Homo sapiens: one gene and its partners. The protein of the gene in region 4 interacts with the protein of the main gene of each other region in a pairwise test. Each region holds a gene or a part of one and is shown on either strand. Other genes may lie near its edges.

Region 1 (3,801 bases), on a different chromosome or scaffold from region 4:
AAATATTTTCTCTTTTTTTTTCCTTTCAATTATACTCTGTATGAAATGGTTTAATATATGTTTCCTTGGTTTCAACCATTGGCATTTTTTAAAAGAGAAAAAATACCATGGAGTATTTTTAAAATGAACTAACACATGTAATGAATTACATGGACTTTGCAGACAGATAAAAGGGCAAAAAAATATGTCCAATTTCAGGGTTTTCAGCCCTTTCAACATTGCTTTAATCATCCTGGTTTGTCTTTTTTCACAAGGGAATGCTGTGTTAATGACTCAGTTTTCTATCTTACTCTGTTACACTAGAAATGAATCAGAATGCCTCATTAGGCCAGGGTAAACCACAACATCAGAATGTTTATATAACAATTTATTAAAGCGGAAATGCTTGATTGTGGTTTTTAATAAACTGTTGAGTGTTTAAGAAAGAGTCTTGTGGTTGTCCTTGTGACTTTTGTAATTGTTGTTGGACCATATGCTATTAGACTTAGAGTTGTCTTTATTAATTAACTACTTAAAAGAATGCCATCAGTAGCTGATAACCAGAGGTTCCAGGTTTCCATTAATAAGGTCATTAAGGGAGATAACAGAGATTTTATTTAAGATTAAACTAAGCCTTGATTTGTAGCACATTTTATTCTCTGTAACATAAGTTTGCCAGAGGAACATTTTTATGCCTTTGTAGCCTTTTATATGAATAATTCATATTATAAGGTAGAAGTACTAGGTACCTCAGTTGAAATTTGAGGCCGGGCACGGTGGCTCACGCCTGTAATCTCAGCATTTTGGGAGGCCAAGGCAGGTGGATCACGAGGTCAGGAGTTCAAGACCATCCTGGCTAACACGGTGAAACTTCATCTGTACTAAAAATACAAAAAATTAGCTGGGCGTGGTGGTGGGCGCCTATAGTCCCAGCTACTCAGGAGGCTGAAGCAGGAGAATGGCGTGAACCTGGGAGGCGGATCTTGCAGTGAGCCAAGATTGCGCCACTGCACTCCAGCCTGGGCAACAGAGCGAGACTCCGTCTCAAAAAAAAAAAAGAAAGAAAAGTAATTTGATTTTAATTTTGTCCTAGTGGAAACTGGAGAAAGACGCTTTTTCATATTCAGTATTATATAAGAAATGTCATAGTTTTAGCCTTCTAAGAACCACAACAAAGAAGGTGGGATTACTAAAGGAAAAAACATCCTATAGTCTATAAGTATCCTAAATGAAATTTTAGTAAATTTTTAAATCTTTAGTAAGTTACAGATGACAGTTTCTCATGGTACTAATATTGATGTAGTTGAATGTAAGTAGATGTTGTGTGCCACTATTTTTGTTTTTATTTTTAGGTTTTTGAGACGGAGTATCACTCTTATTGCCCAGGCTGGAGTGCAGTGGTGCGATTTTGGCTCACTGCAACCTCCGCCTCCCAGATTCAAGCGATCCTCCTGCCTCAGCCTCCTGAGTAGCCCAACTATAGGTGCCCACCACCACACCTGGCTAATTTTTTGTATTTTTAATAGAGATGGGGTTTCACCATGTTGGCCAGGCTGGTCTCCAACTCTTGACCTCAGGTGATCCGCCTGCCTCAGCCTCCCAAAGTTCTGGGATTACAGGTGTGAGCCACCACGCCTGGCCATGTGCTGCTATTTTCAAAAGCCGAAGCTCTTGCGTTGAGTCAAAGGGAAACAAAGACTTTGGTGACTAGAACCGTAGTGTGTCTTGTTCATGCGTAAGATTAAGGTATTATTTTCTAAACTTGCATTTGTGGTTATTGAGAAATTACAGATCGGTAAAATAATATTATGGTCCAGATTTGAAGTGAAAGATAATCCCTAGGACAGTCAGTTTTTATGGGAGATTTCCTTGTTTTTTCTTTTTTTAATAAAAATGATATCTTAGTTCTATAGTATTTGGTACAGTGCTATGTCCACAAAAGGTTCTTGGATAGTGAATAGGCCAGAACTTGCTTTAAAATTGGCTTCTGTAGAGCAGTGTTTGGATAGACACCTCTGAGAAGACTAGCACTTTGAGCCAATTTGAGAGAGTTGCTGCTGCTGCTGCTGCTACTGCTGCTACTGCTGCTACTGCTGCTACTGCTGCTACTGCTACTACTGCTACTGTTCACCACTGGGATTACAATGTTGCCATATGCTGTGCAGACCAGTTTATAAAATCCAGAGTGGCTGCATGTAGAACATTTTTTTAAATCACTATTGACCATCTAGGTTTCATAGACACCCTCATACATGCAAACATACACCCACAGACGAATATTTTTAAATCACTTTATGAGTAATTTTTAAAAGTAAGATTAAAAGGGATTGTGTAAAACAACTTTAAAATTTTAATAAGAATGTAAGCATGGTAACCATCTTTGTATCAAGTAATGTTTGACTCACAAACATAAAAAGCTGAGAGAGTATAGTTACATCCTTGTAGCAACACAAGATAGTCTAGATACTTGTAAAATATTGGGTGTATGTTCTCCCTGCTGAAATGATTAACTCTATGATAAAATCATTTTTCCTTTCTATGCTTAGAAATATATTTTTTACTGACTGATTCTTAAGTTTGAGAAAATTCACCTAGGATATGTTTTGCTGAAGACTCATCTGAGATTTCACATATGATCGATTTTATCATCTAGACTCTAGAATGTGTCTCTGCATTTGTATTAGTTTCCTAAGACTACCATAAGAAGTAATCCAAACTGGGTGACTTAAAACAACAGAAATTACTTCTCTTTCATTTCTGGAGGCCACATATCCAAAATCAAGGTGTCAGATTTGTGATTTCTTCAGAGACTCTAGGTATCCATTTCTTGCCTCTTCCAGCTTCTGGTGGCTGTGGGCATCCCTTGGCTTGTGGCCACGCCATGCCATTCTGTGCCTCCATAGTTATGTTGCTTTTTCTTCTCTCTCTAAACTTCCTCTGCCTTTCTCTTAAAAAGATGCATGTGATTACACTTAGGGTCCAGCTGGATAATCTGGAATAAACTCCTCAAAACCTTTATCTTAATCACATCTTTTTCCATATAAGATAATTTTCACTCATTTGTCATAGAAAGTAATATTCACAGGTCCCAGGAATTAGAAAGTGAATATCTTTGGGAGGCCATTTTTTAGCCTACCACACCATTCATCTTTTGATTTCTTTAACAGTGGCAAGATGTCTTCCTCTGTCAGTTGTCTCCACTTTGCAAATACTGGATAGGCAGAAAATGAAAACTAAAAACAGGTTACAAAAATGGTGTTTTCAGTCTTCTTTTATACTTTCTGGAGGTGACATGATACTTTGTACAGCACAGTAAAGAAGCTCAACAATGATAAGTTATTGCATCATCCTTTCAGATCATTTTCTTATTTTAATTTCTTTTTATTACAAAAGGGAATAATTGATAAGTAATGATGAAATAATTCCTAGGATGATGAAATGGCAAAATGTTTCAAGATACAGGAAATATAAAAATACTGCAATAATCCTATAATATATCTTAGATTTATGAAAGGGTTCTTTGGACCTCTCTGGTAATTGCAAAATATAATTTATTTTATTCTGTTTTTTTAAATAAGTAAATTTTCTCATTATTTGAAAGACTTAAGAAAAGATAAAAATTATGAAATGCTAATTTATACAAATAGTGAGAACTGCTCAGAAAAGGAACTGAAAAACTAAAAGTGGACCCGTGGAACCCAGTGGTATACTGAGGGTTAATGGTTGAGTTTTTAAACATTTCAGGGGATACCAAAACAAAGAGACAATTTCTAGAATCCTTTAAAAATAACATTCATTAATTCATTCCATCCCCCTTTAAAA
Region 2 (2,841 bases), on a different chromosome or scaffold from region 4:
GATGGAGCCTCCTTGCTCTGTCGCCCAGGCTGGAATACAGTGGTGCGGTCTTGGCTCGCTGCAACCTCCGCCTCCTGGGTTCAAGTGATTTTCCTACATCAGCCTCCCAAGTAGCTGGGATTACAGGTGCCCGCCACAATGCTCAGCTAATTTTTGTATTTTTAATAGAGACAGAGTTTCACCATATTGGTCAGGCTGGTCTCAAACTCCTGACCTCAGGTGATCCACCCGCCTTGGCCTCCCAAAGTGCTGGGATTACAGGCACAAGCCACCACGCCCAGCCCAAAAAAGTAGTTTTTTTTTTAAGATGGAGTCTCGCACTCTCGCCCAGGCTGGAGTGCAGTGGCGCGATCTTGGCTCACTGCAAGCTCCCTCCCAGGTTCACGCCATTCTCCTGCCTCAGCCTCCCGAGTAGCTGGGACTACAGGCAAGCGCCACCACACCTGGCTAATTTTCGTATTTTTAGTAGAGACAGGGTTTCACCATGTTAGCCAGGATGGTCTCGATCTCCTGACCTTGTGATCTGCCCACCTCGGCCTCCCAAAGTGCTGGGATTACAGGCGTGAGCCACCGCACCTGGCCAAAAAGTAGTTTCTTGAGATGAAAGTGAACATTGTGGAAATGACAAAGGATTGAGAATATTCCATAAACTTAGTTGCCAAAGCAGCAGCAGAATTTGAGAGGACCGACTCCAATTTTGAAAGAAGTTCTACTGTGGGTGAAATGTTATCAAACAGCATCACATGCTACAGAGTCTTTCATGGAAGGAAGAGTCAGTTGATGCAGCAAACTTCATTGTTGTCTTGTTTTAAGAAATTGCCACAGCCACCCCAACTCTCAGCAATACCACCCTGATCAGTCAGCAGCCGTTTACATTGAGGCAAGACCCTCCACCAGCAAAACGATTGCGACTCACTGAAGGCTCAGATGATCGTTAATATTTCTGAGCAATAAAACATTTTAAAATTAAGGTACATACATTGTTTTTTAGACATAATGCTGTTATGCACTTAATAGACTACAGTATAGGGTAAACCTAAGTTTTGTCTGGGTAGAGTGACTCACACCTGTAATCCCAGCACTTTGGGAGGTCAGGGTGGGTTGACTGTTTGAGCCCAGCAGTTCAAGACCAGCCTGGGCAACATGGCAAAACCCATCTTTACAACGATTACAAACATTACCTGGGCATGGTGGCGCATGCCTGTCGTCCCAGCTACTGGGAAGGCTGAGGTAGAAGGATCAATTGAGCCCCAAGAGGTCAATGCTGCAGTGAGCCATGATTGTGCCACTGCAGTCCATTCTGGGTGACAGAGTGAAATCCTGTCCCAAAATAAAAAAAATCACATAGCTTTTTTTTTTTTTGAGATGGAGTCTCACTCTGTCACTCAGGCTGGAGTGCAGTGGTGCAATCTTGGCTAACTGCAACCTCCACCTCCTGGGTTCAAGCGATTCCCTGCTTCAGCCTCCCAGGTAGCTGGGATCACAGGTGCACCCGCCACCATGCCCAGCCAATTTTTGTATTTTTAATAGAAATGGGGTTTCACTGTGTTGGCCAGGATGGTCTTGAACTCCTGACCTCAGGCCATCCACCTGCCTTGGCCTACCAAAGTGCTGGGATTACAGGCGTGAGCCACCACAAATCACGTAACTTTTATATGTACTGAGAAAACAAGCGTGAGCCAAAAATCATGTAACTTTTATATGCACTGAGAAACCAAATAATTTGTGTGATTTGCTTTATTGTGATGTTAGTCCATTGAGGTGGTTTGAAACCGAACTTGCCATATCTCCAAGATACGCTTGTATTCAAGAACCATTTGTTGAAAAGACTATTCTTTTTCTATCGAATCATCTTTGTACCTTTTTCCATAACTTAGTAACCTTATCTATGTGAGTCTCTTTCTGGATTATGTATTCTTTTTTTCGATCTTGCATTCAATTTGCTAATATCTCGTTGCGCATTTTTGTGTCTGTGCTCAGGCTGTTATTGGTCTGTAGTTTCTTAGTACGGTCTTTGGTTCTAGTATCAGGGGATGCTGGCCTCATAGAATGGGTTGAGTGCTCTCTCTCTTCAGTGTTTTGAAAGATACTGTGTAGAATCAGCAGCATTTCTTCCTTAAATGTTTAGTAAATTCCCCAGGGAAGCCTGTCCTCACCGATGGAAAACTGCTAATGTAGAGAAGTCAGCTGAGGCGTCTAAAGGGACTAAGGAAGGGAGGAAAGGACACCAGGAAACTGTAGCCTAAGGTCCAGAGGGTTCTGGTCCAGACAGAGCAGCAGGGAGGCCCCGGGAGCTCCTTCCCGATGTGGGCTGTGGTCTCTGCAGGTGCTGTCCCTGGACACCAACATCACAAACCAGGTGAATAAGCTGAACCGAGACCTGCTTCGCCTGGTGGATGTCGGCGAGTTCTCCGAGGAGGCCCAGTTCCGAGACCCCTGCCGCTCCTACGTGCTTCCTGAGGTCATCTGCCGCAGCTGTAACTTCTGCCGCGACCTGGACCTGTGTAAAGACTCTTCCTTCTCAGAGGTGCGGCTGAGCTCCAGCGGGCCCTTCACTGTGGAGCAGAACATCCGAGGGCACTGCGGTGTCTTGAGGGCTTCTGCAGCTCCAGCTCTGTGGGTCACACCTGCTGCCCCTCTGACTCACATGGATTGGCAACAGGCCCCTTCCCAGGCCTCCCCACACCATGTTCGGAATGTTGTCCTAGGAAGGGCTCAAGTGCAGGTGGGAGGCCAGAGTGCGTGCAGCTGCACTCAGGAGACTCGCCCGTCACCAGGCGCTTCTCACAGCCCCTTCCTCTCCTGAGATCCTGCCCATGGCACTGTGGTCTGGAGGCTGGG
Region 3 (3,801 bases), about 110 Mb from region 4:
GAGCTCACTGAATCCTCACAACAACTTTTTTTTCCCAGGTTATTTTTTATTTTTATATATATTTTTTAATTTCAGTAGTTTTTGGGGTACAAGTGGTTTTTGGTTACATGGCTGAATTGTATGATGGTGAAGACTTTAGTGCACCCATTACCTGAGTAGTGTAAATCTCCTAATAACTTCTTAAGGTACACACTGCTATTGTTTCTATTTTAGAAATGAAGGATATACTTAGAGTTCAAATAACCTGCCCATAGCCACACAGCTGGTAAATGGTTTAGACAGAGTTTGATTTCAGCCTGTTTGAATCCAAAACATGACTTTTTTAAAGATATAATTTACACACTATAAAGTTCGCCCTTTTAAAGTGTATAATTCAGTGGTTTTTACTATATTCACAGTGTTGTACAACCATCTCCACTAACAATCCAGAATATTTTTATCGCCCCGCAAAGAAACCCCGTGCCCATTAGCAGTCACCCTCCATCCCCTCTTCCTCCAGCTTCTGGCAACCACAAATCTACTTTCTGTCTCTATACCTTTGCCGATTTTGGACTTTTCATATAAATGGAATATCATACACTATGTGGCCTTTTGTGACTGGCTTCTTTCACTGAGTATGGTATGATGCGGTTTGTCATGTTATAGCATCAATCAATACTTCATTCTTTTTGTGGCTGATTAATATTCTATGGTATGGATAGACTTTAGTCTATCCGTTCATTTGCTCTTGGAAGATCGTGCACACTTAACCTATTAGTCTTCACTACATTTGAAAAGGAGAGTCATGAGTCACCTGTCCTCCATCTTGGCGTTACTCTTACTCTGTGACGCAGCACAGCTGACAGTATTTGTCCTCACTTAATTCTAGGTTGTTTGACTGGTCAAGGTGAAACAAAGATGGGGCTGGCAGAAAGAGCAAGGGTGTTGGAGCTGCTGGACCTCGTTTGGACCCTGCCTCTGCCCCTGTTGGCCATACTCCAGTCTTTGCATCTGTTAGCCAAGGCTAAAAACACCTATTCCAAGATGATGGAAGCACACTCCTGTAGTATCAGTGACTAACTCCCCAGCCCTCACTACTCAAAATGTTCCTCCTGTGTCCCTGTGACTTTTCTCTAGTACCTCATGTTTTTATTTTCTTCTACATTCGCAAGGTTCTGCACCATCCCTTAAAGATTGTTTCTCAATCATCTGATGCATTTTTCTCTTTTCATCTGTTAGAGACAAACCTGAGCTAAGGCTCCACATGCCCTTCTCCAACTCCCATGCACCTTCCAGGTCTTCCTCTAGATTCATGAGTGACTGGGGCACAATAGATTATTAAGGAGATAAAACATTTTTCTGTCCTAGAAACACTGTTTTCACACAAATTAGGTCAGGATGGGGCTGAGACTGTACCTGATTTGGCCTAGTTTTATACGGACAATTTTTATTACTTTCCTCCAAATCTTCTAGCTCTTCCTGTCAGACCACTGAGAGACTTGAGAGATAAGGTTAAAATGGGAATGTTTTATTTTAAAATAGAAAGGAATAAAGCCAAAATGTTAAAACTTAGTAAGTCTCTTTTTCTCACTTTTGCCTTGTTCTTCAAGTAAGATAACTTTTAAGAGAAGAGGGACCATGCTTTGGAAAGAACATTAATTAATCAGACCTCTCAAAGTACAGCCCATAGACCACAAAGGCAAAATAAGCAGTAGTGCTCCTTAAAATGATACTGATTCCTGTGCCTCCCTCCAGACCTATGGAATCAGAGCTTGAGTGGTAGCACCCAAGAATCTGCATGTTATTAGTGTTTCTTATATCCATAAAGTTTGAGAACAACTTAGATGATTAAAGTCCTTATTAAAACAGATGCAGCACTACCAAAAAGGATCATATAACTTTAAGTATGTGACCCATTGTCAATTACAGTCTCATTTCTTTAGTTTTTTTTAAATGGCCACTGGTAATTGTTAAGTTCAATTAAGTCCAATAGTTAAATCAAATAAGCAAAAACTTTTTTTTAATTTTATGAGTTCAGAAGTTTGAAACTGCAATGAAAGGAAACATATCTATATATGCATGTAAAAGAACGCAAACATAATAAAAATCATTGCATAGGAGAATGTGAGTTTTCCATAAAAACAGGCAAAACCTCCTAACAAGGAATCTATTTCAATAACTAAACTTTTACAATCACAGATAAAGGTTTGAAAAATCTAGCCAAATAAATTATGTATGATATTTCTGTAAAGAGTAATATTAACAATTTTACCTATTTGAGGAAAATTAACATAAAAAGATTATTACTATTATACTTCCTCTAACATTATAGCTGAAGTATAATTTATGCTTAGTTTCAAGTGCTTGGAAGGAATTAAACCAAAGAAATGGTAAGCCAATTCACCTAACCTAAAGCCAAGACGTGAACATAAATATAGGAATATTTTAAGAACTTTTCCCATGCTATCTTAACACGACTCAGTTCATGTCTTGCTTATTTAAAGTGCTGAGTCTAAAGAAAATCAAAATGGAAAATTAAACCACATTTTGTCTTGAGAAAGACTGCCTTGGAAATAGAACGTGTAAAACCTGCTCCTTGCATCACAGAAACACCCACATTGAATCACTTAACTATCATTTAAGACAGAAAACTTGGCACAGTTCTAAAGATCCTGACTGATGAATAACAGACGTCTTCAAGTAAAGCAATCTGCCTTCTCATGTCAGTGACCATTTAGACCATACCAGGTCTGAGCAGGGTCCTCCCAGCCCACCGTTCTGTCTGAGAAGGAGCCTTTCAGATGTAGAGACTTAGGACATGGGTATTCTCGATGACCTACATTTTGAAAAGTTAATAACTTTATGCCCTAGGTAGCTGTGGTCTCACTTAGTTACCTAGAATGAGCCTACTTTCTACAAATTGACCAAACCCTTTAGGAGCTGTTTATATTTTTATATTATATCATGGTCTAAATTCTACCCTATTTCCCGACCCCACTGGAAAACATCAATTTTTAGAACTTGTCCTAAAGCTACATCTTTCATGATTCAATAGATGGTCCTCAGTTTTTCAAAGGCAGACTGTCCATCTTTATCTAATACGAACACAAGTTTGTCTTTCATTACTATTTTATATACCAGATTTGTGTGTGTGTGTGTGTGTGTGTGTGTGTGTGTAAGTGTATGGGAGAGAGTAGAAAGGATTCTTATTGTCAACTCTCATTCTCTGGATTGAGACCACAAAAGCATTCAGTACTCCAGGTAAATAGATGCTGCGTTTCTGTGTAGGAAAGTTTTTGTTTGTTTGTTTTATTTTCTTAAGGGAAGACCAATTTGGTGTCCTAACTTTATTTTCTAAGTACCATTTAGAAAAGCTCATGTAATCAAAGAAACCAGCAGCATTATAAATCCAATTTAAGTGATATTCATTAGATGAACAACAGCTTCTCAAAGTTTCCTAGCCCTCGCAAAGATTCAACATTAAATCAAGAACACGGAAACCATTTAACGATCACCAACAAAACTGAGTTTTTCCTAGGACGTGTTTTTAAGGTTTCTGTATGACAAAGCATGCTGTATTTTTTTCCAGAAATTACATACAAAAACGCAAAATGTTACAAGGCTAGTAAGATCAACTAATAAGAGCAAAAAAGTAAAAATAAATAAATACTTTAAATGTCAAGCTAGAAATAGGCCAGCCGCGGTGGCTCAAGCCTGTAAGCCCAGCACTTTAGGAGGCCGAGAAAGGTCACGTGAGGTCGGGAGTTCGAGACCAGCCTGGCCAACATGGTGAAATCCCCATCTCTACTAAAAATACAAAAA
Region 4 (4,039 bases):
TTCCCCCAGGGATGGAGAAAGGGCTGTGGGCCACAAGGTCTCAGTCCCTCCTCCCCCTGTGTTACAGCTGGATATTCAGTCCTGGGCTGGAATCATCCAGGCTTTGCTGGAAGCACGGTGAGACCATCTCAGGAATCCCTTCCTTTTCCTGAATTATGTCTGTTTCCCTCTGGTCAGCCATTGGAGGGAGGAGAGGGGCTGTGGATTTCTTGAAGGCGTCCCACTCACCTGAGGGCTGGGGTCTAGGAGGTTGTGAAGGCAGCATTGGGAGCCATGCCCCCATCCCCACAGTGCGGGGCTAGCAGGAGAGGAGGAGGTAGATCTCATTGTACACATCCGTCTTCTGGAGAGAACAACCTCTCCTACCATCCCTTCCTTCTACACCTTCTCTGCCTGTCATAGGTGGCTGCAGGAGGGGTCCACGTTGGGAGGGACAGGTGAGCTGGCCTTTGGTGCTGACACACTCCTGACTTTGCCCTTTCTCCTGCAGGGGGTGCCATTCCCGCAGAATGAGGCTAATGCCATGGATGTGGTGGTCCAGTTTGCCATCCACCGCCTAGGCTTCCAGCCCCAGGACATCATCATCTACGCCTGGTCCATCGGCGGCTTCACTGGTACCAGCCTCCCTCCCATCCCCCACTGTAGACACATTCATGACCACCCAGCCCCACCCGGGAGAGGTGGGGAAATGGGGTGGGGTGGAGGCTCAAGGAAGAAGAGAGAGGAAGTAGAATCTCTGAGTGGGCCTGGAAGAAGCTATCCTATTTGCATACACTTCACCTTTCCTTCCCCTCTTGTGCCCAGTCATTAAAAGGAAAAGCAGACCCAGGTCCTGGGTGGGGAGATCAGGGAAAGTGAATGTTTCCTGCCCATTATCTTCAGTGCACTATCTCCAGTGTTCTATCCCCATCCTCTCCAGATAGTTCCCTAACCAAGTGAAGTAGGTTAAGAAAAAAACAAGGGATAACATAGGGGGAATGGGGTTGGCCTATAGGGTCAGTGGGATGAGAGCATGGGTGGTGGGGAGAAAGGAGCCTTTCTCAGTTCTTACTCTTCTTCCCTGCCCTGGTACCAGCCACGTGGGCAGCCATGTCCTACCCAGATGTTAGTGCCATGATCCTGGATGCCTCCTTTGATGACCTGGTGCCCTTGGCCTTGAAGGTCATGCCAGACAGCTGGAGTGAGTGCAGCTCCCAGGCCTGCCCTTCCTGGGAAGGGGTGGGCTGGAACTGGGAACTGTTCTGAGATGGCTCCCTTTTCTTGGGTGGGGAGTAAGTCGCCCCATTGTTGGAAGCAGGAGGACTCCTTTGTCTGGGGGCCTCAGTTTTCTTTCTCCGTGAATAGTGAGGACCTTTATGTTGGGCAAGGGCTTTGTCTCTGCCATCCCTTCACCTTTATCCCACTCTAGGGGGCCTGGTGACCAGGACCGTGAGGCAGCATCTCAATCTAAACAACGCGGAGCAGCTGTGCAGGTGAGGGCCGGCCAGCGTCCGGCATTGAACACCTGCCCCCCATACAGCTCTGCTGGGCGCTCAAACCCTGAAACTAGTACTAAAGTGCAAGTTGGTAAAAGGCCACTGGCTCACATCCTGAGTGACCCTGCCACCACCTCAACTGGCCTAACCCCTCCCAGGTCCCCTGGGACTCTGGACCACCTCAGGATCTGGCAACCAAAGGGTTAAGGCCTGGCACGGCAGGGGTCTCCCAGCAGGGCCAGACTGAACCATGCCCCTTAAATAATCCCCTCTCACCCCTGAGTGAAGGGCTAGGTCAAGGGCTGTGCTATAGCAAGGGGAGGGTAAGAATGCTACCAGTGCAGGGATAGGGGTGGGCCAGTTGTCACCCGTCTCCCTCTGAGCTCTCCCTTCCCACTGCTCTGTTCTCTGAAGATACCAGGGTCCTGTACTGCTGATCCGGAGAACCAAGGATGAGATCATCACCACCACGTGAGTGCGTGGGAATCTCGGCCCTCAGGAACCCCAGAGATGGCCAGGAACTTGTCCCTTCTACCTCTGCCCACCAGAAACCTGGGTATCTAGACCCTTCCTCCTAACCTCCAGCCCCTCCAGGGTACATTCTTCTCACCCCCAGGGTTCCTGAGGACATCATGTCCAACCGAGGCAATGACCTCCTGCTGAAGCTCCTGCAGCATCGGTGAGAGCCAGGGTGTGTGCGCGCTGGGGGCAGTGTACACACACAGATACTGATACCAGCACAGGGAAGGAGGGAGGAAGGTTCAGGGATGGTGAATGAAAAAAAATCAGCCCTGACCTGTCCTGGCACTTCCTCCGTAGGTATCCCCGGGTGATGGCAGAGGAGGGTCTTCGAGTGGTGAGGCAGTGGTTGGAGGCCTCCTCACAGCTGGAGGAAGGTGAGAAGGGATCCAGTGAGGCTTGGGGCGGGGGCCCAGCAAGGTCAGGTTGCTGACTGGCTGTCATCTCTCTCCCTGACCAGCCTCAATTTATAGCCGATGGGAGGTGGAAGAGGACTGGTGTCTGTCTGTCCTCCGCTCCTACCAGGCAGAACACGGGCCCGACTTCCCCTGGAGCGTGGGTAAGGAGCTCCTGGGGCAGGAGAGAGGGTGGGAAGGGCCTAGGAAGGGGATGAATACCCAGATGTGTGGCCTATTTTGAGCGCCTCCTCTCTGCAGGGGAGGACATGAGTGCAGATGGACGGCGGCAGCTGGCTTTGTTTCTGGTGAGCTAAGGAGTGGGAAGTGGGAAGGGTTCTTGAATGGCCAGGGCTCACATAGGGGGACTGGGGATACCCTATAAGCATTGGAAGTGGCAGCTTTTGTAGAGTGGGTGGTGGATGCGGAAGTGGAGGGTGGGGAGGGAGTCCAGTGGCTGCCCCTCCCAACAGTGCTCTGTACCCCACCTGTCCCACCTCCTTTCCTCAGGCTCGGAAGCATCTGCACAACTTTGAGGCCACTCACTGCACCCCACTCCCAGCCCAGAACTTCCAGATGCCCTGGCACCTCTAGGGACCAACTGGGACTCATTATGGAAGAATGGGGTGAGAGGAGACATGAGGAAAGACCCTCTTATTTGTGATTCTCTGTGTTCATGTTGCTGTTTATAGTTTGTGGAAAGTGGGGGACCATCCCCCTTCTCACCACTGTTCCTCTTGCACGTTTCCCCTCATTCATGTGGCTGTACTTAACCTTCTCCAACATACATCCTGCATTACATGAATGGATTATTCCTAATAATTAATAAAAAGGTATTTTTTCTACTATCAGGCTAATTGTATAACTTCTCAAGTGTCCAGGGAGCCAGGGGCAGGTAGTGGGGAGAGCAGAGGCCCCAAAGAGCTGGGCTTTGGGAAACCCTAACTCTAGACAATCTAGCTAATCTAACCCTTCCCATCTCTGTGTCCCCCTAGGCCTTCAGCCCCTAACCTGAGCTTTCCTCAGGCAGCAGGTCCCCAAACCTCCCCGGTCCCTGATGTGCCTACTGTTATCACAACTGTGCAGCCTCCCTGGCCCCTCCCGCCTCCTTCTTCAGTTCTTCCTGCATACAACCACCCCAGGAGCCCATGGTTGCCCCCTCCTGCTTACGGCTCATGAGCTTTCTAGGATCCGATTTCACCTACCCAGTGCTTCTGCTGGTTTCCAGGTTCAACCTGCATGGTGTTACTAGCAGTACCCCCAATTTTCATTGCTCACCTCTTGTTATCTTGGTGAAGAGTGAGGAAGGGCCTGCTCCCCACGTCTTATGCAGCAAACCCTGCACACCCACCTTGCCATGTCATCAAGTCTCTGTCCTCACAGCCTTTTTGCAGTTCAACAAACACAGGCCCTGCCAGGGACGGAGGGCCAGGTGCCAAGGACTCATGTCTTCTCAGAGCCATACTTTGCCTTTTGGACGGCTCTGTTAGGAGAAGATGCTTAGGTTGTACCTGAGGAAATTGGTTCCCTATAACTGCCATCTATCTCTAACTTTGGACCTTGTGGAACACAGTGAATAAATCCCTCTTCCACCCATTGGTTTGTTGCCTGGCAGTTTTTTTTATTTTTTTGGAGATGGAGTCTTACTAT

Evidence for each region. The genes of interacting proteins can lie anywhere in the genome.
Region 1: the proteins of ABHD16A (region 4) and GORAB interact in binary tests that used the Homo sapiens proteins (3 or more experiments, as listed by UniProt).
Region 2: the proteins of ABHD16A (region 4) and POLE interact in binary tests that used the Homo sapiens proteins (3 or more experiments, as listed by UniProt).
Region 3: the proteins of ABHD16A (region 4) and PERP interact in binary tests that used the Homo sapiens proteins (3 or more experiments, as listed by UniProt).

The regions. Positions count from the first base shown.
Region 1 is NC_000001.11:170,545,365-170,549,165, forward strand, and holds part of GORAB (RAB6-interacting golgin), read left to right. Parts: exon of another isoform or gene 1-427; intron 428-3,801.
Region 2 is NC_000012.12:132,625,803-132,628,643, reverse strand, and holds part of POLE (DNA polymerase epsilon catalytic subunit A), read left to right. Parts: intron 1-2,326; coding exon 2,327-2,527; intron 2,528-2,841. UniProt on the Homo sapiens protein: Catalytic component of the DNA polymerase epsilon complex. Participates in chromosomal DNA replication.
Region 3 is NC_000006.12:138,097,420-138,101,220, forward strand, and holds part of PERP (p53 apoptosis effector related to PMP-22), read right to left. Parts: intron 1-3,801.
Region 4 is NC_000006.12:31,686,156-31,690,194, reverse strand, and holds the end of ABHD16A (phosphatidylserine lipase ABHD16A), read left to right. Parts: intron 1-67; coding exon 68-117; intron 118-228; exon of another isoform or gene 229-490; coding exon 491-614; intron 615-1,075; coding exon 1,076-1,180; intron 1,181-1,408; coding exon 1,409-1,472; intron 1,473-1,889; coding exon 1,890-1,946; intron 1,947-2,091; coding exon 2,092-2,154; intron 2,155-2,294; coding exon 2,295-2,371; intron 2,372-2,454; coding exon 2,455-2,553; intron 2,554-2,650; coding exon 2,651-2,697; intron 2,698-2,899; coding exon 2,900-2,983; 3' UTR 2,984-3,240; downstream 3,241-4,039. UniProt on the Homo sapiens protein: Phosphatidylserine (PS) lipase that mediates the hydrolysis of phosphatidylserine to generate lysophosphatidylserine (LPS). LPS constitutes a class of signaling lipids that regulates immunological and neurological processes.